Linked DNA regions of Homo sapiens. Changing the gene in region 6 together with the main gene of any one other region gives a genetic interaction. Each region holds a gene or a part of one and is shown on either strand. Other genes may lie near its edges. The genes, in order: MAN2A1, SLC39A3, DEPDC5, ARL5A, MTF2 and CUL4A.

The links.
Region 1: changes in CUL4A (region 6) and MAN2A1 together harm fitness more than expected from each alone (negative genetic interaction), as found in Homo sapiens cells (one large-scale study listed by BioGRID).
Region 2: changes in CUL4A (region 6) and SLC39A3 together harm fitness more than expected from each alone (negative genetic interaction), as found in Homo sapiens cells (one large-scale study listed by BioGRID).
Region 3: changes in CUL4A (region 6) and DEPDC5 together harm fitness more than expected from each alone (negative genetic interaction), as found in Homo sapiens cells (one large-scale study listed by BioGRID).
Region 4: changes in CUL4A (region 6) and ARL5A together harm fitness more than expected from each alone (negative genetic interaction), as found in Homo sapiens cells (one large-scale study listed by BioGRID).
Region 5: changes in CUL4A (region 6) and MTF2 together harm fitness more than expected from each alone (negative genetic interaction), as found in Homo sapiens cells (one large-scale study listed by BioGRID).

What each region holds. Positions count from the first base shown.
Region 1 is NC_000005.10:109,694,441-109,700,005, forward strand, and holds part of MAN2A1 (alpha-mannosidase 2), read left to right. Parts: intron 1-5,565. UniProt on the Homo sapiens protein: Catalyzes the first committed step in the biosynthesis of complex N-glycans. It controls conversion of high mannose to complex N-glycans; the final hydrolytic step in the N-glycan maturation pathway.
Region 2 is NC_000019.10:2,731,053-2,735,614, forward strand, and holds the end of SLC39A3 (zinc transporter ZIP3), read right to left. Parts: exon of another isoform or gene 3,474-4,562; intron 2,434-3,473; coding exon 1,699-2,433; 3' UTR 1,472-1,698; downstream 1-1,471. UniProt on the Homo sapiens protein: Transporter for the divalent cation Zn(2+). Mediates the influx of Zn(2+) into cells from extracellular space. Controls Zn(2+) accumulation into dentate gyrus granule cells in the hippocampus.
Region 3 is NC_000022.11:31,903,391-31,907,712, reverse strand, and holds part of DEPDC5 (GATOR1 complex protein DEPDC5), read right to left. Parts: intron 1,730-4,322; coding exon 1,647-1,729; intron 1,509-1,646; coding exon 1,216-1,508; 3' UTR 1-1,215. UniProt on the Homo sapiens protein: As a component of the GATOR1 complex functions as an inhibitor of the amino acid-sensing branch of the mTORC1 pathway.
Region 4 is NC_000002.12:151,821,234-151,826,798, forward strand, and holds part of ARL5A (ADP-ribosylation factor-like protein 5A), read right to left. Parts: intron 1-5,565. UniProt on the Homo sapiens protein: Lacks ADP-ribosylation enhancing activity.
Region 5 is NC_000001.11:93,081,672-93,087,236, reverse strand, and holds part of MTF2 (metal-response element-binding transcription factor 2), read right to left. Parts: intron 1-5,565. UniProt on the Homo sapiens protein: Polycomb group (PcG) protein that specifically binds histone H3 trimethylated at 'Lys-36' (H3K36me3) and recruits the PRC2 complex, thus enhancing PRC2 H3K27me3 methylation activity.
Region 6 is NC_000013.11:113,215,323-113,220,887, reverse strand, and holds part of CUL4A (cullin-4A), read right to left. Parts: intron 1,944-5,565; coding exon 1,840-1,943; intron 1-1,839. UniProt on the Homo sapiens protein: Core component of multiple cullin-RING-based E3 ubiquitin-protein ligase complexes which mediate the ubiquitination of target proteins. As a scaffold protein may contribute to catalysis through positioning of the substrate and the ubiquitin-conjugating enzyme.

The DNA.
Region 1 (5,565 bases), on a different chromosome or scaffold from region 6:
CCAAGCCATTCTCCCACCTCAGCCTTCTGAGTAGCTGGGACTACAGGTGTGTATGCCACTGTGCCCAGCCAGTTTTAAAATTTTTATTTTGTGGAGACGGGGTCTTACTATGTTGACCAACTGGTTTCAAATTCTTGGCCTTAAGCTATTCTCCTGCCTCAGCCTTCCAAAGTGCTGGGATTATAGGTGTGATTCACTGCTCCCAGTTGCCTTTTGTGTTTTTTTTTTTTAACTTACTGTAATACACATACAGAAATGTGCTTACATACTTTACATCAGTAGTACTTAAGAGTCCAGCATAGTAGATGTTATTAATGAAAGTTGACTCATGGCAATACATATAACTAGGACTTTGATTCCCCAGTTTTTTTCTTGCTTTCATAAATCTGTAAATCTTACTTAAGAATGACATATAAGGAAAATATGATCTCCTTCCCCTTCCTTGAGTGCAGTCTATTTATAAACAATAGCACTTGGTGCTGGGGTTTGTTCACGTTTGTATGAGGGAGATTGTCTTATTTTCTGGGATATAATGCGGAGATCTGTGCTTTTTGGGAAGTGATGGAACGTTGATAGTGCATCCAGCATTTAGGAATGCAAGAACAAACATTAGAGCCTTTTGAGGATGGTGTCCTCTAACTCCTCTTCAGTCCAACAGCCCTGTGGGTCTCTTCCTGATCAGCATTTTTCACTAAGACCCAAACTTATTTCCTGTAAACCAACTGGGCCAGATACTCATGACTGTCTGTGGTCTGAAGATAGTAGTTTATGTTTTGTTTTTTGTTTTTTTTAAATTGAATTGGGTGTGTTGTTCCCAGATGAACACTGTTATCAGGGCCTAAACAAATATTTTTGTCAGGGAGATGTCACAATTGTATTATTGGAAGGGGATTTTCTCTCTTAGCTTTTAATTTGCATTAAGAGGTGTCTGGGCTGTGGGCAAAATAGTGGCTAAAATGACCACTTTTATTTGTTTTTGAGTCAGCTATTGCTTTTTGTGATAACTGAAAACTTTAGTCTTTTTTGAAGGACTGAAGTGTTGAGAGTTTCCTGGAATGAGTGGTTCACTAGCTGTTGCTGATCACCTGGTTTATTCTTAGCTTTTTTTGCATTCAGGAGTCTTAGTTTTCCCTTGTTCTCCAACTTCTGTAATCTTTAAGAAAATGAAAGGATATTTAGCAGCTCTGATGACCTGTATTTGCTGGATTGTAAAGGCCTTATTGCATTTTTTATCCCTTCTGTCTTGGTAAAAGTTCCTGATAGCAGCAGCTTTTATAAAAGTTTGAGCAGAACTAAGGCAAGGAGGAAGAACTCTAAAATAGTGATTTTTGCTTCTCAGTTGTTATTAGTAGGTTAATCAGGAGAGGAAGTAGGACATTTTAACTAAAATGGGTTTCTGTTTCAGTTATCAAGCCAAGCTGCTATTTTTAAGTTTGAAACCATTTTTAAATTCAGACAGGTTTGAGGATTAATTGTACTGAAATGGAGCTCACATCTAGTGCTTTAGTGAGTATAGCTAAATGTGCCTATAATAGGGAGGAAGTAAATCATTTGGTTTGATGAACTCTGTCACTTGAGGTCATATCATAGCTTTTCTGAAAGAGTGCCCTGTTTAAGGTAATTATATTTTATGCAGACAGGTGGATAGTAGGTATCTAGTATATATCTTTTTTTTTTTTGAGACGGAGTCTCACTATGTTGGCAGACTGGAGTGCAGTGGTGCAATCTCAGCTCACTGCAATCTCCACCTCCCGGGTTCAAGCGATTCTCCTGCCTCAGCCTCCCGAGTAGCTGGGATTACAGGCACAAGCCACCATGCCCAGCTAATTTTTGTATTTTTAGTAGAGACGGGGTTTCACCATGTTGGCCAGGATGGTCTCGATCTCCTGATCTCGTGATCTGCCCGCCTTGACCTCCCAACATGTTGGGATTACAGGCGTGAGCCTCTGCGCCTGGTTGGTATCTCTTAAATATCTTAATGTTAAATTTCTAAATCTAACATACTGTTTTCTAAAGAAGAGAAAGTACTTTAGTTTAAAACTGGACATACTCTACCATTTGCTGCCTCTATCCAGGCTTTGTAACCTCTTTGCTGTTGACATTTTGGGCCAGAGAATTCTTTCGTGTTAAGGGCTGTCCTGTGCGTTGTAGGGTGTCTAGCAGCATCCTTGCTGTCTACCCGATATCTGCCAACATCACTGTTCTCTCTCTGTACCCCTAGTTGTAGGAACCAACAATGTCTCCAGACACTGCTCTCAATATCCTCTGGGAGTGGGAATCATCCCTGTTGAAACTGTGTTGGCTGTGGCCTCTTCTTTATACCCAGTACATGTCGTTAGCACTTCTGTGTTTTAGGAAGGATTGATCAAAAGGCCGAAGCTCAAAAAGCCAATTAGCATTTTTTGATGGGTGAACTCTATTCTTTCTCAGGATGCCTGAAATTCACTTACACATTTAGGATTCTAGATTGTAGTATGTTACAAAAAATTTCAAGGATAGATTATGTTCATAGGTAAGTTGAAGGAAAAAATGGAAGATTCTTATAATGGAACGTAAAAAAATTCTTTTCCAATTGGACGTGTGTATTCTGAGAAAAACATTAGGGTCAGGTCATTGTAAATAGATCATCTTTTACTTTCTTCCAGCTGAATTACAGGTTGGCACTTATCCAGATTTATTCCTCTTAGCATAGGAAGATAAGATATATTGATTAATAAGGTAGTATAAAAATTGTCTGCAAAAATGTTTTGAAATGTCTGCAGTTTTCTCAGGCAGACTGTTTACTTTTCAGTGTATTGTTTTTATTTCTGTTAATTTTGATGATTCTGGTTACAACATTTTAAATATCTTCTTGAGATGAGAAAAAGCAGGGAAAGAAACTGGAAAATAAGGAGAGTGGATAGAGACTTTCCTCCTGATCATTTCATTTTGTCCTCTAAATAGCATTTTTTACGAAAGTGGGGTGGAGGTGGGAGGTTAGGGAAAGAATGAAGTTCTTGACAAATAATCTTCCTTCTTTTGTCTCCAAGGCCTCTGGTTTTGAACTCTGCTGAGTCAGCTAACTATGAGTGAAATCTGTCTGCCACCTGTCTTTATAGGGCCATGTGCTAAGAATGGTTTTTACATTTTTAAGTGGTTTAATAATGTTTCATGACATAGCCATGGTCATTCATCTACCAATTGTCTCTGACCACTTTCACACAACAGTGGCATAGTTTAGTAGTTAAGACAGAAACTGGCTCACAAAACCTAAAATATTTACTCTCTGGCCCTTTTCAGAGTTTGCCAATCCCTAGTTTAAACTATATTTCTCTATTGTTAATATTGGAGGCAAATAGTATTGTTAGATCTGTTAAAGTAGATGTGAGTTAATTAAAGACAAACAAAATTCTCGTAAATTGGTTATTAGATAAGCATTGGTCAAACTTTGTGTTTTTAGAGAGTGGTTTAAAACTTGTGTTATCTACATGTTTCATAGATTTCCAGGTATCCTTGGGGAACTTTGATGCTAGAGCATCGACATGCTTGATGAGTTTGTTTCTCTTCTTTCACCTGAAGGTTTTGCACTGTAGGACTGCTCTGGGAAGGAAGGTTCTGGGCCATGAACTAGGCAAAATTGATCCATAGCTTCAAGACTGAAAACCATGACTTTATGACTTTTTGGATCTGCTGTAATTCACAGATGGGCTTAATTCTGAGCCCAGTCTGATTGCTTGGGTTAGTTAGTCCTGAGAAGGGAGAGCTCAGGTATAGGTATCTTCTTCATAAGCTGTAAATAGAAGATGGAACTCAGCCGGTCTCTGGGATCCTGAGCGTTGCTCAGCTTGGAGGCAGGGTACTTTCAGGTTGTCAGCAGAGGTACTGGCCTGCTCTTCTGCTTATCAAAGAGCAGTTCTTGCTAATTTTCATCATTTTCTTCACTTTTAAAGATTATATGTCACTTTCTTTGCTGTGTTGCTGTGACACAGGCTAACACCCCATTTGTGTCCTCACAGATTTTAGTATCATCTTTAAATTGCAGTATACTGAGTCCGAACAAAATGGGGGTAATGCGTCTCATCGAGTAGTATTAAGGTTAGTGTTAAGTAGAGTTTTTTAAGTATTTGTTTTTTTGCATTTAAAAATGTATGCATTTGTGTATTTTTCACATGTAAATGGATTTACCACTGGCCTCCTTTGCAGGTGGTGCCTTTGGAAGTCCAGAGAAATTAAATGCTTTTTCCAAGAGCAGAGAAGACTCTAAATTTGACCCTGTCCTATGTTCTTGCTGGTGCACTTCATTGGCTTCAGTGAGGAGTCCGGAGAGCTGGGACTTTACCAATGATTTTTTTTTTCTTTTAAACATGTAAAAGGTATAAATGCACATAGAAATAATTCAAATGACATAGAAAGGTACACATTGACAATAGAATCCCTCTCCCTTTTTTCCCCATCTTTAGTCCACTCTTCTCTGAGTCCCACTTCTGACCATTTCTTTATGTTCCATGTGTGGTTCCTTCTTTAAATATATGCATATACCTCTGTTTTGATTTTTGTTTCAATTTTGAGCTATTGTTTCCCTTTATAAGAGATGAAGAATTTAACTCAATACCCCCTACTCTTCCCAGTTTTTAAAAAAGTTTTGTATTCAATTTCTGTTTGATATACATTAACAGCTTTCAATGATGTAATTGCATTTGTTTTCTTGATTCATCAACTTTAGGCCTAAAGTGACTCCCCACTCTGTCAGTCAAGGAATTTGGTACTTCTCAGCCTTCTCCCACTCAATTTCTCTTCCTTCTCATTTCTCACCCTCCCTCAGCCATCAGTTTTTTTACATCAACATACCTTATATCATCTACATTTCATTCTGTGACTGAATGTGTTATGTACTCTGACTATAGGTTGGTTACAAAAATTGAAAACCAGTAAACAAGGATACGGAATTTTAGGTAGGAGGAATAAGTTCAAGAGATCTATTGTACAACATACTGATTATAATTAATAATAAAGCATGTAGTTTTGAAAATTGCAAAGAGTAGATTTTAAGTGTTCTCACCACAAAAAAGAATAAATAAGTGATGTAATGCATATGTTAATTAGCTTGATTTAGCATTCTACAATGTATGCATTTTTCAAAATGATATACTTGATAAATATATACAATTTTTATTTGTCAGTTAGAGCTCGTTTGGAGGTTCCAGCAGGGGAGTGCAGCTCCTTGTATACCCTTGACCGAAGACCCGTCCTCCATCAGGGATGGTCATCCTCTACGACTGAGCATGCAGCTTCAGGAGGGGCTCACATAGAGTGGTGAGGGAGGAAGGGGACACCCGCCTAGCCAGCCAGATCAGCCGAATCAACCCTGGCGATCAATGGGGTGACAGATTTCGCAGCCAGATCGCCCTCACATCCTATTTGTCAGTTAAAGAAATAAAAAATGTTAAAAAAAAGAAAACCAGTACATAGTGTTTTCAATTTTATGATATTAAATACCATGCAGTATATGTCAGGTAGTTTGGCTTCATAAGAAGGAGGGATAATCTTGATAATTACACCTGTGCCACTTGAAGGAAATATTCTGAG
Region 2 (4,562 bases), on a different chromosome or scaffold from region 6:
TACTTACAGACCCCCTGGAGTGGAAGTTGGGGGGTCTCAGGAGCAGAGGCTGAACCCCGGGTTACGTACCAACCCCCTGGAGTGGAAGTTGGGGGGGGGTCTCAGGAGCAGAGGTGGAACCCCGGGTTACGTACCGACCCCCTGGAGTGGAAGTTACTTACAGGGGCTGTGTGACTACTCCGGCCTCCTGGGACCCCCATGGCAATGCTCCAGGCAGCCACCGCCCTCTCGAGGTCGTCCCTTCCTGTGACTGGCACCTGGGAGCTGAGCTGGCTGCAGCAGGGCCACCGGCCGGGACACCCCACAGAGCAGTCACTGGCTGGCCCTGGAGCTCCCCATCTGACTAGATTGATGGACTGATGGATAGGAGGCCCCGCCAGGCCCAAGCCCACAGGCCAGATGGGCACCTCTCCGTGCAGCCCCCCCCAGTCAGCCTTGTGGGTAGGTGTAGGGAGGCGTGGTGGCGAGGCAGGGCACGGGATGGGAGAAGGGTACCTGGGGCCTGGCACTCAAAGATGAGTGACGAGGTGGGAGGTGGGGACAGCCAGAGGCCCTCACAGCCCTGATGGGGCTGGAAGACGCCAAGGCCCAGAGATGGGGTCCGGGGCTCCAGGTCAGATCAAGGAAAAACCCAGCCCAGGCGGGCATGCCCGGCTCCCTTCCGCGGCGCCACAGCGGCTTCGAGCCAGGCAGAGCAAAATCCCCGAGGAAAGGCGTCCCTCCCCAGCTCTCACCTCCCCAGACCCGGCAGGGTTGCCGGGACGACGGCTCAGGCCTTCCGGAGGTTGCCACAGAGCCAGGAGCCCAGGGCTGCCCCAGCCCACGCCCGGCTGCTCGTCCCCCGTGCTCCTGCCCTCTCGGGAGCAGCGTCCCTGTGTCCACGGGAGGGATCGCACCGCGGGGCCCCTGCCCCACCGCTAGTGGGGTCCATCTTCCTCTGGAGACCCCGGTGTGTGTAAGCAGAGCTGAGGACTGATCTTTAAGCTGCCTCCTGGCCCTGCTCGTGAGTCTCAGGAAACTGTGACACTCACCTGGCCCGGGGGTCCTGGCCCAGGGGTCCCCGCTCCAGGAGCCACCCAGCAAAGGGAAAAGGAGAGGGCACTCCTGAGGGTACATGGCCCACTCACAGGGGGTACAGCCTTGTGTGGCAGGAGGGACGGAGCCCGGCTGTCCCATCGCAGTGACTCCAACCTCTAATAAGCCTCAAGACACTCGGGGCTCGGGCGGCGAGATCCTGGCAACAGAGTAGGGTAGACGTTGGGGCCTCAGGGCCCCCAGCTGGCTCCTGAGGCACAGGCGGCGCGGCCCTCACTCTGGCCACAGCAGCCAAATGCTCCCGTCCTTATTCACAGGCTGGGGGTGTGCGGCAGGGAGAGGAGGGTCCTGACCGATCTCACCGGGACCCAGGTCCTGGCCCTCCCGCCCGTGGGTTGCCACACCCCACGGCCCGAGGTTGACATGGCCACACAGCTTTGGTAAAGACTTTTAAGAGAAAGAAGTATTTTAAAAAGTAGCAGTGCTCTGAGGCTCAGGGTGTAGGATCGGGGGCACAGCCTGGTCCCGGGAGGCCCCTTGTGCACAGGTGGTGGCCCAGGGCCACAGTGCTCGCTCTTGGGGGACGCGCGGCCGGGGGACGCGGCCTGTGTCCGGCCCGGGGCTCCCGGCGGGCTCCGGCGGCAGGGACAATGGCGAGGCCGCTCACCACTTGAGGAAGACCATCCCGGCCAGGACGGTGTAGCCCAGCACCAGGAAGAGGACCTTGAGCAGACGGTCACTCTTCTCCTCCAGCTCCTTGGCCAGGATCTCCAGGAAGGTGATGAAGAGGAAGGTGCCGCCCGCCAGGCCCTGCAGCAGCACGGACGCCACGCTGCCCGGCACGCCCTGGGCGCTCTCAATGCCCAGGCCCAGGCCGATGCCCAGGGGGATCATGGCGCTTACGGTGACCGCCAGCTTGGCCGCGTCCCGCAGGGGCATGGCACTCCGGGCCATGCTGATGCCCAGGGCCACGGCCACCAGTGTCTCGTGGACGGCCACCCCCACGAACAGGCTCACCACTTTCTCCCCCTCCTCCTGCAGGCCCAGGGCCAGGCCCTCAAAGACCGAGTGGGCCGACAGCGCGAAGGCCAGGCTGAGCAGGCGCACGGGGCTGGCGCGCGAGAGGCCCTGCACGCTCAGGCTGGGGCCGTGGCCGTGGGGCTCCACGTACAGCGCGTGGCCCCGCGCGCCCCCCATGAAGGGGCTCTCATACTCCGAGTCGCTGCCCACGTCCGATCCGGCGTTGAAGGTCTCCAGGTCGATGAAGGACGGCTTCTCCTTGCGGAAGGTCAGGATCAGCTGCTCCAGGAAGACGGTCATGAAGAAGCCCAGCAGGAGGATGGTTTCGGCCAGCGGGTAGTCGGTGCTGATGTGGCCGAGGCTCAGGACCTTCTGGAGCTGCAGCCGGGGACACCCGAGAGAGAGAGAGAGACCCACGCTCAGGGGTGGCGGCGACAGGGCTGGCCAGATGTCACCGTTCAAAGCAAAGTCCAGAAATCCCCGATTCACACAGAGGTTAAAACAAGTGGGAGAGGAAGGGCTCGCCTGTGATGAATTAACACCACCACCACCAGCCAAGCGCGGTGGCTCATGCCTGTGACCCCAGCATTTTGGGAGACTGAGGCTGGCGGATTGCTTGAGCCCAGGAGTTCGAGACCAGCCTGGCCAATATGGGGAAACATGTTTCTACTAAAAATACAAAAATTAGCTGGGCATGGTGGCGAGCACCTGTAATCCCAGCTACTCAGGAGGCTGAGGCAGGAGAATGGCTTGAACCCAGGAGGCAGAGGTTGCAGTGAGACGAGATCGTGCCACTGCACTCCAGCCTGGGCGACAGAGGGAGACTCCGGCTCAAAATAAACACATAAAGAGCTGCACTGGCCTTGCGTGTTCTGCCGCGGGGCCTCCTCTCTGCTTCCCTGACCGACATGCCTGGGCCCGACTCTCCTCCTGGTCAGGGCTCTCCTAGCGAGGGGAGACTTTGGTGGGGAGAAACTAGACGTGGGTCAGACGGGAGCCGCAGGGCGTCTGCAAGAGGTACACACTCCTATGGGAGGGACAGCTGCTCACGGGGCGGACACGCAGGCATTAGGCTATGCGCCAGGATGAAATGTCTCATGAAAGGCAGGCTGTAAACGCCCACAACAGCTCCCTGGAGCCTCGTCACGGCAGGGCCAGAGTTCACAGCCACCCTCCAGAGAGACCTCGAGACCAAAGTGGAGGAAAATCACAACACAATCGACACTCAACAATGCCTGCTTCCCTGCTTCCTTCCCAGCGGAGACTTCATTACAACCTGCGCACGTGCACACACACACACACACACGCATATGTGCACACACGCACGCACACACACGCGCACACGCAGGTGCACACACAAGCACGCGCACACAGTGGTTCTCAACCAGGGCGATTCTGCCCGTGTGGACACCTGGCAATGTCTGGAAACATTTTTTATTTTCACAACTCGGGTAGGGGGAAGGTGCTGACATTCGGGGCTGGATTGTTCTCTGGGACGGGGCCGTCCTGGGCACTGCAGGGTGCTGCTGAGCAGTGTCTCTGGCCTCCACCCACTCCAGGCCAGGAGCACCCCCCATCGTGACAACCACAATGTCCCCAGGCATCGCCCAGTGTTCCCTGGGGGCAGTTCACGCTGGGTGAGCCTCTGCTGCAGCAGAAGGCTGTGTTTCCACGGAGAAGCCACTTAACTCCCTCACTGACCACCGGCTGGAGGCCTCATGCATGCCTCGCTTGAGGACAAGCTCATGAGGAACTCTAGCTACTCCCAAGAGACAGACGTTGATCAGGAGAGATGAGGCAGATGCACGGGAGCTGTGAACCAGGCACCATTTTCCAGGGGTGACTGAGAGCCTGGCCCTGCAGTGGGTGAGGCTGGGGGCTCGGGAGTAGGGACCTCATCCGCCTGACCAGCCCGAGGACAGGAGAACGGCGGGAAAGGTTTGGGTGCCATGAGAAGGCCACTGTGATGAGGGGGAGGGAAGAGCAAGCTCCCCGCAGTCGCCCAGGCCTGCAGTCAGAGGGTGACGGGGGTGACACCATGACCATGGGGGAAAAGGGGGGCTGGCAGTGGCCTCTGCGATGCAGGAGATGTCAGAGATGACCAAGATCTCCATCCTCGCAGTGCAGATGTCAGTCTTCACACACCGCGTAACGAACGAATGCAGACTCAGCCACGCGGAACAGCAGGAATGCGGTGTCTCGGCTCTGAACGGTGGAAATCCAGGTGCGGGCTAGCTGGGCCCTACGCTCCAGGTCTCGCAGGGTGTCATCAGGGCTGAGATCTCACTGACACCCAGGGTCCTCTTCCAAGCTCACTGGAGGTCGGAAGAGTCCACCTCCTGGTGGCTGTGGACTGAGGCCCCGTGTCCTGGCTGGCTGTTGGCGGGGATGGCTCTTGGCACCGAGAGGCTGCCCTCGGGTCCTCGCTTCATGCCCTTCTCCTGGCACACCCTGGCTTTTTGCTTCTCCAAGGCCAGCAGGAGGGTGAGTGGCTCACCTGATTAGGC
Region 3 (4,322 bases), on a different chromosome or scaffold from region 6:
TCTTATCTCAGCAAATCTAAGTTAGGCCGGGCATGGTGGCTCACACCTGTAATCCCAGCACTTTGGGAGGCTGAGGTGGGTGGATCGCCTGAGGTGAGGAGTTCAAGACCAGCCTGGCCAACATGGTGAAACCCCATCTCTACTTAAAATACAAAAAATTAGCCTGGTATGGTGGCAGGTGCCTGTAATCCCAGCTACTCGGGAGGCCGAGACAGGAGAATCGCTTGAACCCAGGAGGCAGAGGTTGTAGTGAGCTGAGATCACACCATTGCACTCCAGCCTGGGCAACAAGAGTGAAAACTGTGTCAAAAAAAACAACAAAAAAAACAACAACAAAAAAAACCTAAGTTAGAGTCTACAAAATGTTTCCTTTGATTTTTTTCAGAATGCCATCATATCTGCGTCCCAGAGCTGAGCTCACCCATTTAGCAAGATTCATTCTGACAGCATGAGCCTGCAGTTACCTTGTAAGTTATACTGCCTGCTCACTGTCCTCACTGGAACCATCCTTGCTCCTGCCCAGTGGCCTATGAAAGAAATCTCTCAATAAACTCCCAGCCAGACTCTAAGCCAGTGAATTCTGAAGCCCTCTCACCATCTGTGACCACTTCATTGACTGCCATGACCCCGGCCACCTGGCACAACTGCCCAGCCCAGGATGGGACTGCTTCTGTGGGGAACTGGGTGGGGAAAGAAATGATGCACGTGGAGCTCTTTATTTGCTTCTGATATGTACAGGTATATACAGTTGGTGAGAGTCTATGGTACATTATTTCACAAAATTATCTTACATCTGTGCACACTCCTGGGCAAGAAGTGGCAGATTCTGCCCCTAATATCCCATAGATGGTGAAGGAAAAGGATGCTACCAGGAGCCACCCCCTTCCGAGGACATTCATGGGGGCCGCCTGCCCTCTTCCCAGACACTGGAGCCCTCCCACGGACAATCTGTGCCTCCCACCTGCTCTGAGCACTTGCTGACAGGAGTGGTGGCAGCAGCAGCAGCTGCTTCCAAAGTCTTTCTTCTAGAGTAGAAGACTTGTCGTGGGGGCCAAAAACAAACAAACAAACAAACAAACAAACAAAAAACAATGGCCCCCACTCACTGATAGCAGCAAACGGACACCTGACTCCTAGAGCCTGCCTGGAATCCTCCGCCCCGGGTTTGAGGGCAGTGGCTCACCCACCTTCCCCCAGCACAGGTGCAGCCTGGCCTCACGGGGCACTGGCATGCATCTTCTCCAGGCAACTTGTCCAGAACGTGACCAGCCGGTTGTCACGGTTGATGCAGAAGTCCGTGAAGTCCTTCAGCAGCCGATCAGCAAACTTTTCATCCCCTGTGGCGCTGGAGCGCCATGTTTTGGTGAGCATGGTGTTGTAGGCCCAGTTGTAGCCGACCCGCTCCTCGCAGAACATGTTCTGGTTGGTGGAGCTGGTGGAGTTCCGCCGCCGCCGCTGCTGCCCTGAGAACTTGCGCTTGGAGTAGGGCAGCTGCAGAAACACTGTTCCTGAAGAGAAAGGGGAGCGCCTGTGTGGCAGCCACCAGGAGGGCTCCTGGAGCCTGCTGAGGTGGTTCTGCAGCCATAGGCTTGGTGCAAGGAAAGGGATGTGGACCCACCTGCCCAACTCTGCCCGTAGCTCCTCACCTGTAACGTGGATATACTGAGGCTTGTTCTCAGCAGGGAAGTTAAAAGCAGAGGCAGAATATTTATCTTGTACAAACCCAAACCTAGGGAAGGACAGGAAGACATGCTAATCAGCGCCTCCTTAGTTAAAGGGGCAAGGGAAGAGAATGTAGCTGATAGGACTCTCGGACAGCCTGAGACACAGAGATCTGGAAAGATCTCTTTCCAGATTGCACATGCAGGCTGCTTATTTTTGTCCTCACCCTCACCACTTTCTGACCTCTACCTCTTCCAACACCATGGCTTACCAGACCTCCTCACACCCAGCAGCCCGTCATCTCCGTGGTCCACCATGTCACTACCACCATAGTGAAAGAAAGCCTTCCCACCGGCTGCACTCTTCATCCAGCCTTCATCTCTGCTCAGACAGCCCGTCCCTCCTACCATGTTCCCTACCCATCCCAGCAGACCTTCCCACTGAGCGTTCTCCCCCATCCCATCCTGGGCCTCTCACTGGAATCTACCTCATGTCTTGACAGGCCACACATACCCACCCGCATACTCGAGGCTATCCATTCCTCCAGGGAAGGTCCTTATCTTTTTTTTTGGTGAGAGGGAATCTCGCACTGTTGCCCAGACTGGAGTGCAATGGCATGATCTCGGCTCACTGCAACCTCTGCCTCCTGGGTTCAAGTGATTCTCCGCCTCAGTCTCCTGAGTAGCTGGGATTACAGGCATGTGCCACCATGCCTGGCTAATTTTTGTATTAGCCAGGATTGTTCTGGAATTAGCCAGGAGAATCACTTGAATCCGGGAGGCGGAGGCTGCAGTGAGCTAAGATCATGCCATTGCACTCCAGCCTGGGTGACAGGGCGAGACTCCATCTCAAAAAGAAAAAAAAAGAGGAACGCCAAGCTGGGGCTCTCTGCTTCCCTGTGCTCTGGAAATGGGCAGGAGGAGCCATTTTTCATCTATGGCTTGTTCTATTCCTGGTTTTTCTATTTCCATAAGGCACATTTATTACAGTTCTACCTGCTAAGAGCTGTAAAGGACGTGGTAACAGATGTGGCTCCTGCCCTCTAAGTCTGAGGGGTTTATATAATGGAGACAGTGATGTAGGCAGAACTAAAGAAGGGAAAATGCCTGTCTTCTTTCCTGGACTGAGTTCCTTGGGGAGGTGCTGTGTTGTATCCTCTACATAATCTGCATTCCATAATTTTTTACCAAAGAATACATGAAGTCAAATATGCAAACTAAATGGGTAGGCTACTATGCACTGTAAGCTCCCTGTCTACAGGCTGATTATATGATGAGGATTGGCTCTGGATTTTGCCTTTGCAAAATCCTCTCTACTCTTGCTCTGTCATCCAGGCTGGACTGCAGTGGTACAATCTTGGCTCACCGCAACCTCCACCTCCCGGGTTCAAGCAATTCTTGTGCTTCCAGCCTCCCAAGTAGCTAGGATTACAGGCACGCGCCACCATGACCAGTTAATTTTTGTATTTTTAGTAGAGACGGGGTTTCACCATTTTGGCCAGGCTGGTCTTGAACTGCTGACCTCAGGTGATCCGCCTGCTTCGGCCTCCCAAACTGCTGGGATTACAGGCGTGAGCCACCACACCCAGCCTGCTTTCTCTCTACTTTCTAATTAAGGCTACTGATTTCCTCAGCATGGATCAGCCTGATTTTTTTTTACCAGAGTAATTTTTTTTTACCTCATTTCTTCCTTAGGTCACCAGGAAAGAACAAAAAGGCAATTTAACCACATGGTTCCTGGCCACCTGACTGTCCACTCAGGGAGAATGCAAGACAGAAACGCAGTAAGGGCAGGGGAGGGGATATAATCATCTCCACCTGCCCCAAGGAAGATGAAGGAGGAGCTGTAGGTCACAGCCTAGGGGCTGAGGAAGATGAAGGAGGAGCGGTAGGTCACAGCCTAGGGGCTGAGGAAGATGAAGGAGGAGCTGTAGGTCACAGCCTAGGGGCTGAGGAAGATGAAGGAGGAGCTGTAGGTCACAGCCTAGGGGCTGAGGAAGATGGACACTTTTTTAGCTCTTTCTGAGATGGACCTTATGGGTGGGCTGATGTGTCATTTAGAGCCACAGTTGCACTTAAAGCTCCACCCTATGCAAAAGCTACATATGAAACTACTCTAGGCAGGCACCTTGCTAGGCATTATAGAAGGAAACACAAATAGGAAAAAGCATACCCCTGCCCTCCAAGGGCCCCCAAGTCACTGGAATACATTCAGAGTGTTTTGAAAGAAAGGGAAAGAGGAATTCAGAGAGGAAACATTTGGGAATCCCTGGAGGAAGATTCTGACAGGTGTGGAACAGGGGAGAGGTTTAAGTGTGAAAGGTGGGAGAGGTTAGGTGTGGAAGGTGGGGGGGCTTAGGTGTGGAAGGTGGAGGGGTTTAGTTGTGGAAGGTGGGGGGCTTTAGGTGTGGAAGGTGGGGGGTTTAGGTGTGGAAGGTGAGGGAGTTTACGTGTATAAGGGGGGGTTTAGGTGTGGAAGGTGGGGGGAGGGTAGGTGTGGAAGATGGGGGGAGGGTAGGTGTGGAAGGTGGAAGGGTTTAGGTGAGGAAGGTGGGGGAGTTTAGGTGTGGAAGGTGAGGGGGTTTAGGTGTGGAAGGTGGGGGGTTTAGGTGTGGAAAGTTGGGGGGGTTAGGTGTGGAAGGTAGGGGGATTTAGGTGTGG
Region 4 (5,565 bases), on a different chromosome or scaffold from region 6:
AAATGCATAAATATGCAACCATGCCCCCAAACTCTTAAGACCTAAGCAGATTTCTAAAGTCAATCAAGGGAAACCAAACTAATATATTTGAACATATCATATTCTTACCAAATGGTTAAAATACTTCAAAAACAAAAAGGAGGAAAGAAACTCCAATCAAACATAAGCAGAACCTGGAAAATATCCAAAAAAACCACATGTAGTCATGTGGTCTGAGATCTCTGGAGGGCCATTCCAATGAAGAATCCATGATCCAGAGGATCTTTACCTCCTTACTCCACCCAAACACCTACAAACTACATTCATTACAAAGTTCTAGTTGCTTCCTCCCAAGACGTAGCTCTATTTGAGTTTTTTTGTATTTTCACAATAAAGCACCAATGACTTTTTTGAGACGCAGTCTCGCTGTTGCCCAGGCTAGAGTGCAGTGGTGTGAGCTTGGCTCAATGAAACCTCTACCTCCCAGGTTCAAACGATTCTCCTCCTGCCTCAGCCTCTCAAGCAGCTGGGACTACAGGCAGGCACTACCATGCCCGGCTTTCTTTTTTTTTTTTTCTTTTTTTTTTTTTTTTTTGAGACGGAGTCTCGCCGTATGCCCAGCTAATTTTTTAATTTATTTATATTTATTTATTTAGAGATGGAGTCTCGCCCTGTCGCCCAGGCTGGAGTGCAATGGCATGATCTCGGCTCACTGCAACCTCTGCCTCCCAGGTTCAAGGGATTCTCCTGCCTCAGCCTCCCGAGTAGCTGGAACTACAGGTGCGCACCACCACGCCCAGCTAATTTTTGTATTTTTAGTAGAGACAGGATTTCACCATATTGGCCAGGCTGGTCTTGAACTCCTGACCTCATGATCCACCTGCCTCGGCCTGCCAAAGTGCTGGGATTACAGGTGTGAACCACCTGCACGTGAATCATCAGAAGTTTACTGTGCCTGGCCTAATTTTTGTATTTTTAGTAGAGATAGGGGTTTTGCCATGTTGGCCAAGCTGGTCTTGAACTCCTGACCTCAGGTGATCCATCTGCCTTGGCCTCCCAAAGTGCTGGGATTACAGGCATGAGCCACTGCGTCCCGGCCACCAATGACCATTTTTAATAGCTTCCTAAATCTAAGACATAGCATGTGGGTCACAATGAGAACTATAAAATTAAGACCAAACTGTGCAATGGGCTCAAAGACAAACGTGTCATCTCAATAATAGGGTCAGATTAGTCACAAAGTTTTTAATAGTAGATCAATTTCCTCTGAACATCCTTACTCTCACCACCACAGCCTGTTCCTTTCATTAGCAAGATGGAAAAGCATCTATACAAAATGTAAATTTGTAGCCAAAAAGTGCTATAATGCACTTCGAAATAAAGACTTCATAGAATCCCAATATGCCTACTACAAGAATGTTATTGTGGACAAATGCAATAAAACTTTCAGCCATTCCAACTCTTTGATGCACAAGAATCATCAGAAGTTTACTGCTTAGTATGATTTTTCTTTTAGACTATGTCACAGCATTCCTGTATTTACTCAAATAAGCCACAACAACTGCACTGTTCTAATGCTTTGATGGAACTGTGAGTTACCAATTAGGCTTTAACATACCAATCAATACTTTACTGTTTTGTCATGAAAATTGCTTCTTGTTTCCCTTTTCCTTCATTTCCTTTTGACACAGGCAGTCTACCAGTTCCATTCATTGCCAGTTTTTAAAAGTTAATATATATTCCCCCAACTCATCAGTCAATAAATTAAGCATAATAATAATTGTTATTGTAGAGAATTACTATCTCTGTGAATCATACAACATCAGAAAACACAAAAACACCAGGGCAAATAAATGGAGAGTCCTCTTGATTCATCATTTTTACCTCATATCTGAACTATCACTAAGCCCTATTAATTCTATGTCTCTCAGAGCAAAAAATTCCATTTGTCATATTCACTATAGTTCTCTTAGTCCATAGGACAGCTCCTGGAATAAAGCATGAGCTTAATATTTTTCATGAATAAATAAATCAGATCTGGAAAATATAAAGGTTAGGAGAGAGATATCTGCTTAAGTCGTTTTGTATTAAAAGTTCAATTTTTAAAACTTAAAAGTCTTAACAATAAAAAGAAAGTTTGAAAATAAACTTGCTATTACAGTAATGGTAAATTAAGTTTCAGGGGAATAACCAAATTTTCTTTTGCACTATGAGGTTGCTGAAAAAAAAAAGCAATGATTACACATGGCAAAATTAGAGATCCAATCAGGAGGCAGAAATCACACAATAATTTGAACTTGGAAAGTTCAACATCAAAAAAATATTACAGGGGACTGGAGTAATGAGAGATTGGCTAAAAGATTATGGGAATGTCAAATTTAAGAAGCACTCACTATCCCTAGGGTTGAGATAAAGGTCCTCCCCCTCCCTCCAGACTTAAGATGCAGATCTCGTTGGAGGGCACAGATAGTGGCTCACTGAATGGCAGAGAAGTAGCTGTGGTGAGGTGCCAGTGGAACCTGCCCAAAAATCCTCCCTCTTCGGTGCTGAGGAAAACTGTTTATTGAGAGGTATTTCACTGGAGACCTTCCATTATGAAACCAACTAAGACGGGTACTAGGGGAAGCTGTTGGCTGCTGCTGACCACTATGCAGTACAAGAGCCAGGCCTTGGAGACGGTGTTCATGCTACAAGCAGAGCCCGTCAAGAAAGCACACTATAACTAAGTACAAACACCCTTTCCTCCTACAATGCCTCTCCAGTGCAGCCTACTGACAAAACTTAACATTTTGCCCAGTGGCAAAAGAAAAACGTTTAAAGGACCTAGCTCCACTTCCACAGAGCATGCAAAAAGGGTTTACAAATGGTCTCTGACTTGTGATGTTGTAAAAGCAACACACATTCAGTAGAAACCATACTTCGAGTACCCATGCAAAGATTCTGTTTTTCACTTTCAGTACAGTATTCAATAAATTACACGAGATATTCAACCTTTATTATAAAATAGGCTTTGGGTTAGATTTTGCCAACCTGTAAACTAACATAAATGTTCTGAGCACGTATAAAGCAAGCTAGGCTAAAGCCATGGTTTTCAGTAAGTCTGGCATATTAAACTCATTTTTTACTTACTGTATTTTCAATTATCTATCTATCACAAATTATCAACTATCACAAATTGAGGAGCATCTGTATTAGAAGCTAAGACACAGTCTACCCCTTGGCTACTCAGCTTCCATATGTACTCTTCTCTACACATTTAAACTCCCTAATAATAATAATAATAATAATAATAACAACAATAATAAGCCAGAAACAGAGGTGGCTTCCTCAGCATCAGGTTCCTGAAGCACAGGCAGCTTCTCCTGCACCCATTCATACTTATAATTCCTTTTCTAGCAACCAACCAAGAGAGCAATACAAGGCTATTAATGAGGAAATTCCACAACTTCTTTTATAGTTCACATCAGTCAGTTCTTTTTATCTGAGTCCTTCTTATACAAAGTCCTTCTTACACGAAGTTGTGTGCAAATGTGCGTGCGTGCATGTGTGTGTAGAACTAACTCTGGCACTAGATAATCTTGTTAAAATCCAGGTGTGTGTGCGTAGGAGAAATAACTCCGGCACTACGTAATCGTGGTTAAAATCCAGGTCTATCACTTTTACCTATAGTGCTTAAAGCAAGTTACCTGTTTCCGTACCCCTGTAAAATAAGGGGAATAATATCTACCTTGTAGGGTTGTTGTAAAGAGTAAATCAACTAAGTGAATATTAAATCAAACAACCTGTGTGAACCTTGCACAAGTGTTAACCACTATTATTTTACTTGTAGAGACAAAGTGAGTTAATTTCCTGTCTCCCAACACTACATGAAAGCTCCATAAAGGCAGTGGAATTTGTCTGTTTTGTTCCCTTATCCCACCATGTAGAACACTTCCTGGACTAAATAGGTGTTAAAATATTTGTTTATTGAGAACAAGTAAACCACTGATCACAAGCTCTTCTATAAAAAAAAGTTACTAATGGCAACTTTTCGAAGTTCTAAAGACAACTTAGAGATTAGCAACTGAAAAAGTTAATGGGGGGAGGAGGAGGGAGGGAAAAATGATGTCAATCTCTTCTTTAAGAGATTCCTTCAGGGTTTTAACTTGCCTGGCTCTGGCATATACCAGTTGCATGGCCTGGGGAAAAAAAATCATTCCACTTAAGCCTCAGTTTTCCCTTTTCAGGGGAAATAACTACTTCAAAAGATTGTTAAAACATAAAATAAAATAAAATAAAATGATTTAAATGACAGCATCTAGGATAAAGTTTGTACTCTACTGAATCTCAGTATCAACTAAATGTGACCTCTGGTTTTTCTAGTTCGAGCGGTATACAAATAGCTTTCACTGTGCACTCAATCTGAGCTTTAACTGAAAAAGCTGTTCTCGAGGGGTTTCAGAAACAGGAGATACTGCATAGTTTAAGTTTCATCAGATGGCAAATTCTGTAATCTCCCGAAACATACTTTCCAAGAGTTTCTATGAAAAGAAAGTAAGATTGCATTCTGAATCCACTGAAGGTAAAACAAGAGCATCCAACACATATCTAACTTATATATGTCCTATACAGAAAAAAAAAAAAACAACCCTGCTGGGCACCATGGCTCAGGCCTGTAATCCCAGCACTTTGGGAGCCCAAGGCGGGTGGATCACGAAGTCAAGAGATGGTGACCATTCTGGCCAACGTGGTGAAACCCCATCTCTACAAAAAATACAAAAATTAGCTGGGTGTGGTGGCACGCACCTGTAGTCCAGCCACTCGGGAGGCTGAGGCAGGAGAATCGCTTGAACCCAGGAGGCACAGGTTGCAGTGGGCCAAGATCACACCACTGCACTCCAGCCTGGTGACAGAGCAAGACTCCATCTCAAAAAAACAAAAACAAAAACAAAACCCAACAAATATCTGGCATTAGATTAAATGGTGGATATTCGGAAAAGTGACCCTATTGATAAGACAGCCACACTGTTTAGCAGAAAATAAATAATTTATTCACACTTTCACAATATTCATATCTAATTTTCTAGAACTTAACTTCATTAATTTCTCTATTAATTTCCGCCAAACTGCCATAAATGTCCCGTCAAAAATTACCACAAAATACAGGTTATAAAAACACTACTATTAGCAATTTGTAGTGATACCAGAGCACACACCCTTATTATTTACTACTCCAAGGAGCTGTTGGCAAAGTTCTCATTTATTCTTAACTTACAGAAACAAATAATTTTATCATTGACTCAAAATAGAAAGTGGTGATAACTCTTTTTCTGGCAGCACTAGAGCTCAATTCACAGTCTTGCTAAACCTCACAGCAGATGAAACACTAGCTTTGCTAAAAATAATACAAAATGATGGATGTTAAAACTAGAATAGATCTTATCTACTATAAGTACCATCAGTCTTACAGCAATGTACGTTTTAATATTTGCAATGTAGAAATAAAGTTTACAAGATTTGGAAGCTCCACAGATCCCTGGTGTTCTAGGTGAGAAAACCTAGACCAGAAAACCTGAGAGTTCAAGTGACTGCTTCCCACTCTCCTGC
Region 5 (5,565 bases), on a different chromosome or scaffold from region 6:
GCATTCCTACAGATGGTTCAACTTGGTTGTTAAGTGTCCTCAGATACTAATACAAGTTGAGCATCCCTAACCTGAAAGTCCAAAATCTGAAATGCTTCAAAATCTGAAACTTTCTAAGCATCAACCACACATGAAAAATTCCACATCTGACCTCGTAACAGGTTGTAGTCAAAACGCAGGTGGCACAACACAGTTTATTCAGTGTCCCGAACGAAAAAATAAGCTTTAGACTAAGCATACAACGTGTGTATGAAACATAAATGAATTTTGTGTTTAAACTTGGGTCTCATCCCCAAGACATCTCATTTGTATATGCAAATAAGCCTAAAATCCTAAAACCCTTCTGGTCCCAAGCATTTCAAATAAGGGATATTCAACCTGTAGCTGTCTGCCCAATTTTGAAACAACAAGAAAAAGTTCAAAGACAGCTGCCTGTAGTATACATTTTCAAAGCTCTGTATTTATCACATAGATAAATACAAAAGGACTTTATAAATAGTTCTTCAAACACCAACAAAACTGGGAAACTAACATAATTACTAGGCTGAAAAAGCTACAAGTCAAATATGATATATTAGTTTTCTTCTCCCACAGGAATATGTCTTTGCATCTCAAGATTCACCCGGGGCTGCCTATCAATTATTCACAAACCAAGATCTTTTCCACCCAAGGCATTCATACATATTGTACCTACTACCAAAATTGCCCTTCTTCCTCATCTTTTTTTTTTTTTTTTTTTTGAGACAGTCTCGCTCTGTCACCCAGGATGGAGTGCAGTGGTGCAATCTCAGCTCACTGCAGCCCCCGCCTCCTGGGTTCAAGTGAACCTCAGCCTCCTGAGTAGCTGAGATTACAGACATGTGCCACCACACCTGGCTAAATTTTTTGTATTTTTAGTAGAGACAGGGTTTCACTATGTTGGCCCAGCTGGTCTCAAACTCCTGGCCTCAAGCGATCCGCCCGCCTCAGCCTCTCAAAGTGCTAGGATTACAGGCGTGAGCCAATGCACCCGGCCTCCTCCTTCATTATTTACATAGTTGATCCTTCCTTCTAAGCATAGTCATGTGCTACACAGTAAAACTTTGGTCAACGACAGATTACATATACAGCAGTGGTCCCATAAGATTATAATGGAGCTGAAAAATTCATATTACCCAGTGACTTTGTAACCACTGTAATGCAATGCTTTACAATGTGTTTGCAGTGATGTTGGTATAAAACAAACCTACTGCACTGCCAGTAGCATAAAGTCTTGCACATATACTCATTATGTACAATACATAATACTGATAACAAACGACTGTGTTACTGGTTTATGTATATGCTATTTAGTTGTCCCTTGGTATCCACAAGGCACTGGTCACAGAACCTCCTGAGGATACCAAAATCCACAGATACTCAAGTTCTGCAGTGTGACCCATAGAACCTATGGATGCTAAAAGTTGGCCCTGGCTGGGCCCAAGTGGCATGCCTGTAATCCCAGCACCTAAGGAGGCCAAGGCAGGAGGATTGTTTGAGGCCAGGAGTTCAAGAATAGCATGGGCAACATACCAAGACCCCGTTTCTACAGAATATTTTAAAAATTAGCCAGGTGTGGTGGCATGCACTTGTAGTCCTAGCTACTCAGGAGGCTGAGGTGGAAGGATCACTTGAGCCCGGGAGTTTGAGGGTACAGTGAGCTATGATCACGCCACTGCACTCCAGCCTGGGCAACAGAGAGACCCTGTCTCTTTTAATGAAGAAAAAAAAAAAAAAAAAAAGGCCGGGTGCAGTGGCTCACGCCTGTAATCCCAGCACTTTGGGAAGCCACGAAGGGCGCATCATGAGGTCAGGAGATCGAGACCATCCTGGCCAACATGGTGAAACCCCGTCTCTACTAAAAAATACAAAAAAATTAGCCGGGCATGGTGGTGGGCATCTGTAGTCCCAGCTATTCATGAGGCTGAGGCAGGAGAATGACATGAACCTGGGAGGCGGAGCTTGCACTGAGCCGAGATGGTGCCACTGCACTCCAGCCTGGACTCCGTTTCAAAAAAAAAAAAAGAAAGAAAGAAAAGAAAAAAGGTAATGTAATTAGGATCCATAACTATACTATAATGACAATGCTTTGAAATTTTAAAAGTATTTTTAGTACTAGATAAGCACTTCACAAACTACCCTTCTATCTCCCTGATTATGGGAGAATTCTTTAACTACTATCAAAAAATCCTCAGAACTGAGAATCAACAGAGGGGCTCAAGTACTGATAAGAACTTTAAATTAAATGAGGATAGGAGAAAGTGATGCTTTATCTTATCAAGGAAAATGGTTTACTTTGTTTCTATATGTTCAAAGTATTTCTTTTAATACTTACATTTTTAAAGACAGGGCCTTGCTCTGTCACCCAGGCTGGAGTGCAGTGGCACATCATAGCTCTCATAGTTCACTGAAGTCTCAAACTCCTAAGCTCAAGCAATCCTCCTACCCAATCCTCCTGCCTCAGCCTCCTGAGTAGCTGGGACCACCGTGCCTGGCTCAGGAATAAATTTAACAGAAGAAGTTCGAGAATTGTACAATGAAAACTACATAATATCAGAGAAAGAAATTAAATAAGATCTATATAACTGGAAAGGCATCCCATGTTCATAGATGTTAATAATATTAAAATGGCAAGTCTTCCCAAATCAATCTATAGATTCAATACAATACCTACCAAAATCCCAGCTGCGTTTTTTTGCACAGACTCACAGATTGATCCTAAAATTTACATGGAAAAGTGAAAGGAACCCAGAATAGCCAAATTGTTTTTTAAAAAGAAAAAAACTTGAGGACTCACAACGTCCCAATTTCAAAACTTACTATGAAGTAATGGTAATTAAAATATTATGGTACAGTCCTAAGTACAGACACATAAATCAATGGAATAAAACTGGGATCCAAGAACAAACTTTTACATGTATGGTTAATTTATTTTTGACAAGATTGTCAAACACAAGTCAATGAGGAAAGAATTAGTTTTTTTTAACAAATGGTACTAGAAAACTGGTATCCACATGCAAAACACTGAAGTTGGACCCCTACCTCACACCATATATAAAAAATTGACTCAAAATAGATGACGGACCTAAATGTAAAAGCTAAAACTATAAAGCTCTTTAGATACGGCATCAAAAGCATAAGCAAAAAAAAAAGGAATAAATTGAACTTTATCAAAATTAAGAATATTTGTGCTTAAAAGGACACCATCAGGAAAGTGAAAAGATAATGCACAGGATGGGGGAAGAAAAGTCTGCAAATCATATCTGATAACAGGCTTGTATCCAAGAATAAAAAGACAGTCCCATTTTTTAAATGAGCAAAAGACTTAAATAGACAGTTCTCCAAAGAAGGTATACAAATGGCCAACAAGTATGTGGAAAGATCCTCAATATAATTAGCCATAAGTGAAATGCAAATCAAAACCACAATGAAATACCAATTCAAACCCTAGGATGGTTATAATCAAAAGATAGACAATAATAAGTATCAGTGAGGATGTGGATAAACTGGTGAGATAATCACTCACCAGATAATCGCTAGTGAGCTTGTAGAATGGCACAGCCTCTTTGAAAAACAGTTTGGCAGTTCCTCAAAACACTAATCCGAGTTATCATCTGACCCAGTAATTTCACTCCTAGATATGTGTACCCAAGAGAAATGAAAACATGTTCACCCAAACCCTATACATGAATGATCACTGCAGCATTACTTACAATAGTCAAAATGTGGGAACAACCCAAATGTCCATCAACTGATGACTAGACAAACAAAAAAAGGTATATTCATATAATGAAATATTATTTGACCCTAAAAAGATATGAAGTGACTATAAATGCTACAACATGGCTGTTCCATGAAAACATTAACGATATAGTTTGGATTTTGTGTGCCCGCCCAAATATTCCGTCAAATTGTAACCCCCAACATTGGAGGAGGCCCCTGGTGGGAAATGACTAGATCATGCAGGCAGATTTTCCCCCCTGCTGTTCTCATGATACTGAGTTCTCTGGTTGTTTAAAAGCATGTGGAGCCGCCCCCATCTCTAATCCTCCTGCTGTGGCCACTTCAAGGGGGCCACTTCAACAGGAAGTTTCCTGAGGCCTCCCCAGCCATGCTTCCTGTATGGCCTGTGGAACCGTAAGCCGATCAAAATTATTTTCTTTATAAATTACCCAGTCTCAGTTATTTCTTCATAGCAGTACAAGAATGGACTAATATAGTCATGCTAAGTGAAGGAAGCCAGACATAAAAGGCCACATATTGTACTACTCCATTTACATGAAATGTCCAGAACAGGCAAATTTATAGACACAGAAGGTAGATTAGTGGTTGCCAGAGGATAGTGGATAGGTGAAGGGGACTGACTGTTAATGGATTAAGATTTTCTTTTCTTTTTGGGATGATGAAAATATTCTGAAATTAGGTATGGTGATGGCTGCACAACTTTGTGAGTATACTAAAAAAAATCACTGAACTGTACACCTTCAAAGAATGCATGTGAATTATGTACATATAACTATAGTATATAAATTATATCTCAATAAAACTTATTAACAACTGTACAGTTAAGATTTGTGCATTTCAATATATGTAAACTTCACCTAAAAATAAACCTTTAAAAAATAATAAAAACAATGGGCTGGGCACAGTGGCTCAATCCCAACACTTTAGGAGGCCACAGCAGGAGGACTGCTTGAGGCCAAAAGTTCATGACCAGCCTGGGCAACACAGTAAGATCCCGTCTCCACAAAAAAAATTAAAAATTTAAAAATTAGCCAGGTGTGGTGGTGTGCACCTGTAGTCCTAACTACTCGGCAGGCTAAGGCAGGAGGATCACTTCCGCCCAAGAGTCTGAGGCAGCAGCAAGTTATGATAGCACCACTTCACTCCAGCCTGGGTGACAGAGCAAGACCTTGTCTCTTTTTACAGAAAAAAAAAAAAAAAAGAATGGTTACATAAAAGCTCACTATTCTATTCTGCTCACTTTGTATTATGTTTGAAATATTCCTTAAGTTTTTTCTACCAAAGTGTAAAAACAAAGTAATTTTTTTAAACAACAAAACGTTCCTAATATCCATTTTTTGTTGTTTTTTGACACAGAAGCAGAATCTTATATTTTAAAAAGACTAGAGAGGTCACTATCTTTCATTATTCTATTGCAATGTTATATGAAAACAGAAATATGACAGAAGACATGGTATGTGGTAAAAATGAATACTTCATCTTAAATGTACAAAAAGAATCTGAACTTCCTCAGTTCTCAGGCATTTCCTCATCCTTGGATTCCTGTGGTTTCCATGGTTAATGAATGTAACAATTCCTCAATACATGGATGCAATAACCCCTACTACTGTGCTGTCCAATACAGTAGCACTGCTACATATGGCCATTTAAATTTTAGTTTTAATGAATTAAATTATAAATTCACTTCTTAGTCTCACTAGTTACATTTCTAGAGTTCAATACCCACATGCAGCTAGTGGCTACTGTACTGGATACAGCAGATATAGAACACTGCCATCACTGGAGAAATTTCTACTAGATAGC
Region 6 (5,565 bases):
CCAGGGAAATACAGTAATTCCCCTGCCTCTCCCATAAGCCTGCGACTTCTTGGAGGGTAGAAATCAGGCATGGGGGTCACTTTCCATTTTGCGGTGCCAGTGCAGTAGGTAGAAAGCAAGTGCTTGTGCAGTGAGTGAACTGATGGCACATTAGTCAACCCACAGAGTAGGAGTAACTGGCAAAAGATTCATTTGATCAGGTAATCAGATAGTCGTTTTCAAGTAAATTGGGACAGCAACTAGAGTAGGAACAATCACCGCCTACTGACTCTCATAAACGCCTAAGTCTTTGGGAGAAGGCTTGGGCATCTGCTAAAGACTTCCCCCAAGCCTAGGAGTCAGGCCGCTTTTTGGATGGAAACATCTGGAACGTAGGTTCCTGGAAGCGCATTGCTGAGCCGTGGCACTGGGGCGGGGCCTGCTTCTGTGCGCCCTCACAGGCGCCTCCTGAGATAAGGTGCACTTTGGCCAGGTTCCAAAAGGTGGTGTGCGGTCACTGATCTCTTGAACGACCTCATGATCTTTAGGAAAGGGCTTTGCTGGAAAACACTGCAGAGGCGTATTTACAGAAGCCAGCACAACAGAGCTGGAACCGACTTCACTCACATCTGTGCGGGGTGCTGTGGAGATTGTCTAAACAGAGACCTCTCACCCTGCATTTCAGCTTCCCTGTCACGTGCTTCAACTTCAGCAGCACCAACTGCTGCAGATTCCCTGAGGACCCTTCCAATGAACTCAGAATGGTTTAGTTTCCCAAGATCAGGGAGATGGGGGAGCAGAAGTTTCCTTGAACTAGAAGAACACTTAGAAATAAGCAAACACAAACCACCTAATTTTACACATGAAGAAACGGAGGCCTAGAAAAGTACAGCCACAAGTAGATTTTCTGCAATTATAAACTCTACTTTCTAATTCCTACCCAATGAGACACATGGACAGCTACAGTACTGGGAGGAGGCTGGGGAATGAGATTGAGTCCAGATTAAAGGATTTTCTATAGGATGCCAAGGAGCCCAGAGACTCCCCTGTAGACGTCTGAGTCACAGCTGGTGTGGCAGCAGAATTCTGAGATGCTCCTGCCCTGTCCCCACGTGGAGGATGCCTCACACGCAACTGTGAACGAGGCTGTGAATACGAAGGTCATCATTCCTTGACTGGGTTACGGGTTACATCATATAAGGCCCTATCTCAGCAGGTCAGACAGGCAGATTCTCCTGCTGGTCTAGAAGCAGAAAAGAGTCGTGCTGTGAGAGGAGAGGCAAGGACCTGTGCATGTGGAGCTGAGAGTGACACCAAGCAACACGGGACAGAAGGCAGGGCCCTCAGTCCCACTACCACAGGAACTGGCTTCCGCCAACTGCCTGCCCGTGCTAGCAAAGACCTCAGGTGAGGCCCCAACCTGGCTGACACCTTGACTCTGCCCGTGAGACTGAGCATAGAATCCACTGAATCCTGCCTGGCCTCCTGACAGACACAACTGTGCGCTGATAAGTGGGTGTCTCCATAAGTCGCCAAGTCGATGGGACTTTGTTGCCTATCACAGAAAGCCAATGCAGATGGTGTTTATTAGAATAAAGGATACTCAAACTTGAAGACATTTTTCAGAACATTTCCTAAATACTTCAACCATACCCAATAAATGAACACGGTTTCCCTTTAATTCAAATCAGCAAAATAATTTAAATGGTAAATTTCGCTTACAAACCTATCAAATAAAAGAGAACTTTAAAAGCTGTTGTTTTAATATTAAGGATACTCATTAGCTCTTTATCATAATAATGTTCAGTTTTAAAAGACTTAGATAATGAATAGAAACTTTATGAACCAAAAAAAGGATATTCTCTAAACGGAAGGATCTGTGCCTGGACGTGGTCTTCACAGGCCTGACGCAGTTGCTTGTAGAGCATTGGGGAGACTTTGTGAGAACAGAGATTTTCCACAGCCTGCAAACAAAAGGGCTACATCAATTCTTCAGTATGAACAACAGATTGGTTCATAAAAAAACCCTATTGTTAACATAGCTGTAATCATAAGAAAAAGGCACCCCACACCCTACCCCAGTACTTCAGGAATCTACAAATAAATTACTTATTATGGCTAAGTTTAGGGCACTTCTCGTTGGAACACTGCAGTCCAGTCATAGTTGGCATGGGGGTAGAGGTAACAACAGTTAATGTGGGCACATTGCACCTGCTGGACCTCGGGTCCCAGGCAGCTGGCCTGCACCACTCCTGAGCATCTATGGTGCCCAGTCACTTGGGACTTCTCAACAGGTTTGATCCTCACAGGCCTGTTTCCGGGTGCTCCGATTCCTCAGTCTGAGATGGGGGTCACTGGAGTGTGTTTGTGTTTAAGTTCACCTTGATGATTACAAAGTGAAATCAGGGCTAGAGAACCAAGAAAATCTTTTCCCTCAGTGACCACCTTCCCATCAGGAAGGAGAACAACAGGCTGGGCCTTCCCCTCACACTCCCCAGGGCAGTGATTCAATCCAAACTGAGCTTTTTCTGGGTGACACAGGCCAGACTGTATTGTTTCCTATTTATTTTTCTGCAGGCTAGATGTGTAATTCACTTCAGTTTGTTTAATTAATAAACTTTCTTTTTTATTCTGTGAACACCCCTAATACAAGAAGAAATCTTTTTTTTTTGAGTTGGAGTCTTGCTCTGTCACCCAGGCTGGAGTGCAAAGGCAGGATCTTGGCTCACTGCAACCTCCACCTCCCGGGTTCAAGCGATTCTCCTGCCTCAGCCTCCCGAGTAGCTGGGATTATAGGCACCTGCCACCACGCACAGGTTAATTTTTGTATTTTCAGTAGAGGAGGGGTTTCGCCATGTTGGCCAGGCCGGTCTCAAACGCCTGACCTCAGGTGATTTGTCCGCCTCGGCCTCCCACAGTGCTGGGATTACAGGCATGAGCCACCGTGCCCAGCTGACACCATTTTTTGAAGCAGAAAATTTTTTCTCACAATATTTTTACTCACCTCAAAGAAACAATGCTTGTACATTCTTACCAGTTCTAATAAAATTTCCTTTCCAATCTTAGGTACAAAAACTTAAACTCATTCAATTCCAATATGAAATATTATAAACAGAAATATGGTTTTTCTAACAAGTTTTGAACCAATGTGGGGTTCGAAAAATGTGGGGATATACAGAATAAAAACACTTTAGATAAATAATCTGAATTTAATTAGGATACAATATACCCCTAGGAAAAAAGGTAAATTAAAGTTATAAAGCTATTCATTTTACTAATACTTACACAAGTATTAATAATTCCAATACTAAATATCGGAGAGCTGCTACATATTAACCAAAGTTAAATACATACAGTGATTACTACCATATAAAATACATGCATATTTACAAAGATCAAAAGAGGATGTGGAATAATTATAATCCTGTTTTTAATTATAATCCTGTTTTCTAGCAAGCTTATTATCAGCATAATAACAAAGAAATACAAACTTTCCCCCTACATTTTGTCTTACTATAGAAACGGAATTCCTACCCACATTCTGTATTTACTTTAACTCCTTTCTCAAACTCTTCAATTCCATCCCTTTGAATTCCATATCTTCATAATTTGGTCAAAGATCTGCCATCCTTTTGTCTCCTCAAACAACCAAGAGAACTTTACGACAAAGGTTTTGCTCCAGTAGTTAAACATTAGTGAATCCCACAAACATAATTATTACAAAGTAAGTTTTTTATATAACACATGAAGAAAATGTATTTTCTTCAGCAAAAATCAACAGTAACTTAGGACCATTTTCTGGATGTTTTAATTCCTAGACCAAGAACCAATATCCTTAAAACCATCTTTTCCTGGTTGTGGCAAATGACTAAATATTTTATAACCCACTCTGCCTCCTATGTGTCCTATTTGGTGCACATTTACTATTCATATGAGTCATACTGCAATTTACTTTGTTTTTAAAATTAAGAATTTAAGAACCTCTCAAAACAAGTGGCAAGCCCTGGGTAACCCAGGTTTGCTGTAGGTGCTGAGTCAGGACTCCCGGCTTCATATTACAGGCACTCATCACTGGAAAGGCGACAGCCTTTGTTTCTCCCCGCCCTGCCAACTCCTTGCTGGCAGGAACATACTGGAAGACTTTTTTGTGCTGTTATAGAAGCAGCACAACACAGGAGTTGCCCCTCCCCCAAATGGATTTTTGACACTCAATCATACTTTGAGATTTAGAAATACCCTCTCTGGATGCATAAAGCAACTAATCAGATGGTACTGTGTGCTTCATGTTGGTGCACTCAGGCCATTAGCATTTTAAAGATTCACCCCAGAGAAAAGGAATGTAATCCAATGATCGGAGGTAGAGAAGTATCATTTGCATTCTACTCCTATTAGTATCAAGATGCTTTCCTTGTATCAACAGCCAAGTGAGGAAATTTGGTGTATATCTACAGCCAGCACTGTCTCTTCTCACATCACAGCTACTTCCTAACTAGCAGGTTCATCAAATGATTGTCTGTATTAGCTCAACAGACACGTGTGTGAATGTCAAATACACGTCTATTTATAGTGTCAAAGCATTGCCTGGAGTGAACTCACTGCTACTTAAACAAAATGCTCACTGCGGATAAGGGCAATCCCTGCTCTCAGATGTGGAAGACAGAACAAGGAAGGCCATGGAGCTGTGGGACATGACCTCCATAGTCACACAGAGACCTCCACAGCCACATGGGACGTGACCTCCATAGTCACACAAAGACCTCCACAGCCACACAGATGAGACCTCCATAGTCACACAGCGACCTCCACAGCCACATGGGACGTGACCTCCATAGTCACACAAAGACCTCCACAGCCACGTGGACGAGACCTCCATAGTCACACACGACCTCCACAGCCACATGGGACCATGGGACGTGACCACCATAGTCACCCAAAGACCTCCACAGCCACACAGACGAGACCTCCATAGTCACACAGAGACCGCCACAGCCACATGGACGAGACCTCCATAGTCACACACGCGACCTCCACAGCCACACGGACGAGACCTCCATAGTCACACAGCGACCTCCACAGCCACATGGGACGCGACCTCCATAGTCACACAGCGACCTCCACAGCCACACAGACGAGACCTCCATAGTCACACAGCGACCTCTACAGCCACACGGGACGCGACCTCCATAGCCACACAGCGACCTCCACAGCCACATGGGACGCGACCTCCATAGTCACACAGAGACCTTCAGAGCCACATGGATGAAACCTCCATAGTCACACAGAGATCTCCACAGCCACACGGGACGTGACCTCCACAGTCACGCAGAGACCTCCACGGCCACATGGGACGTGACCTCCATAGTCACAAAGAGACCTCCACAGCCACATGGACGAGACCTCCATAGTCACACAACAACCTCCATAGTCACATAGCGACCTCCATAGGCACACAGTAACCTCCATGGTCACACAGCGACCTCCACAGCCACATGGGACGTGACCTCCATAGTCACACAGCGACCTCCACGGCCACATGCGACGTGACCTCCATGGTCACAGAGACCTCCACAGCCACATGGATGAGAC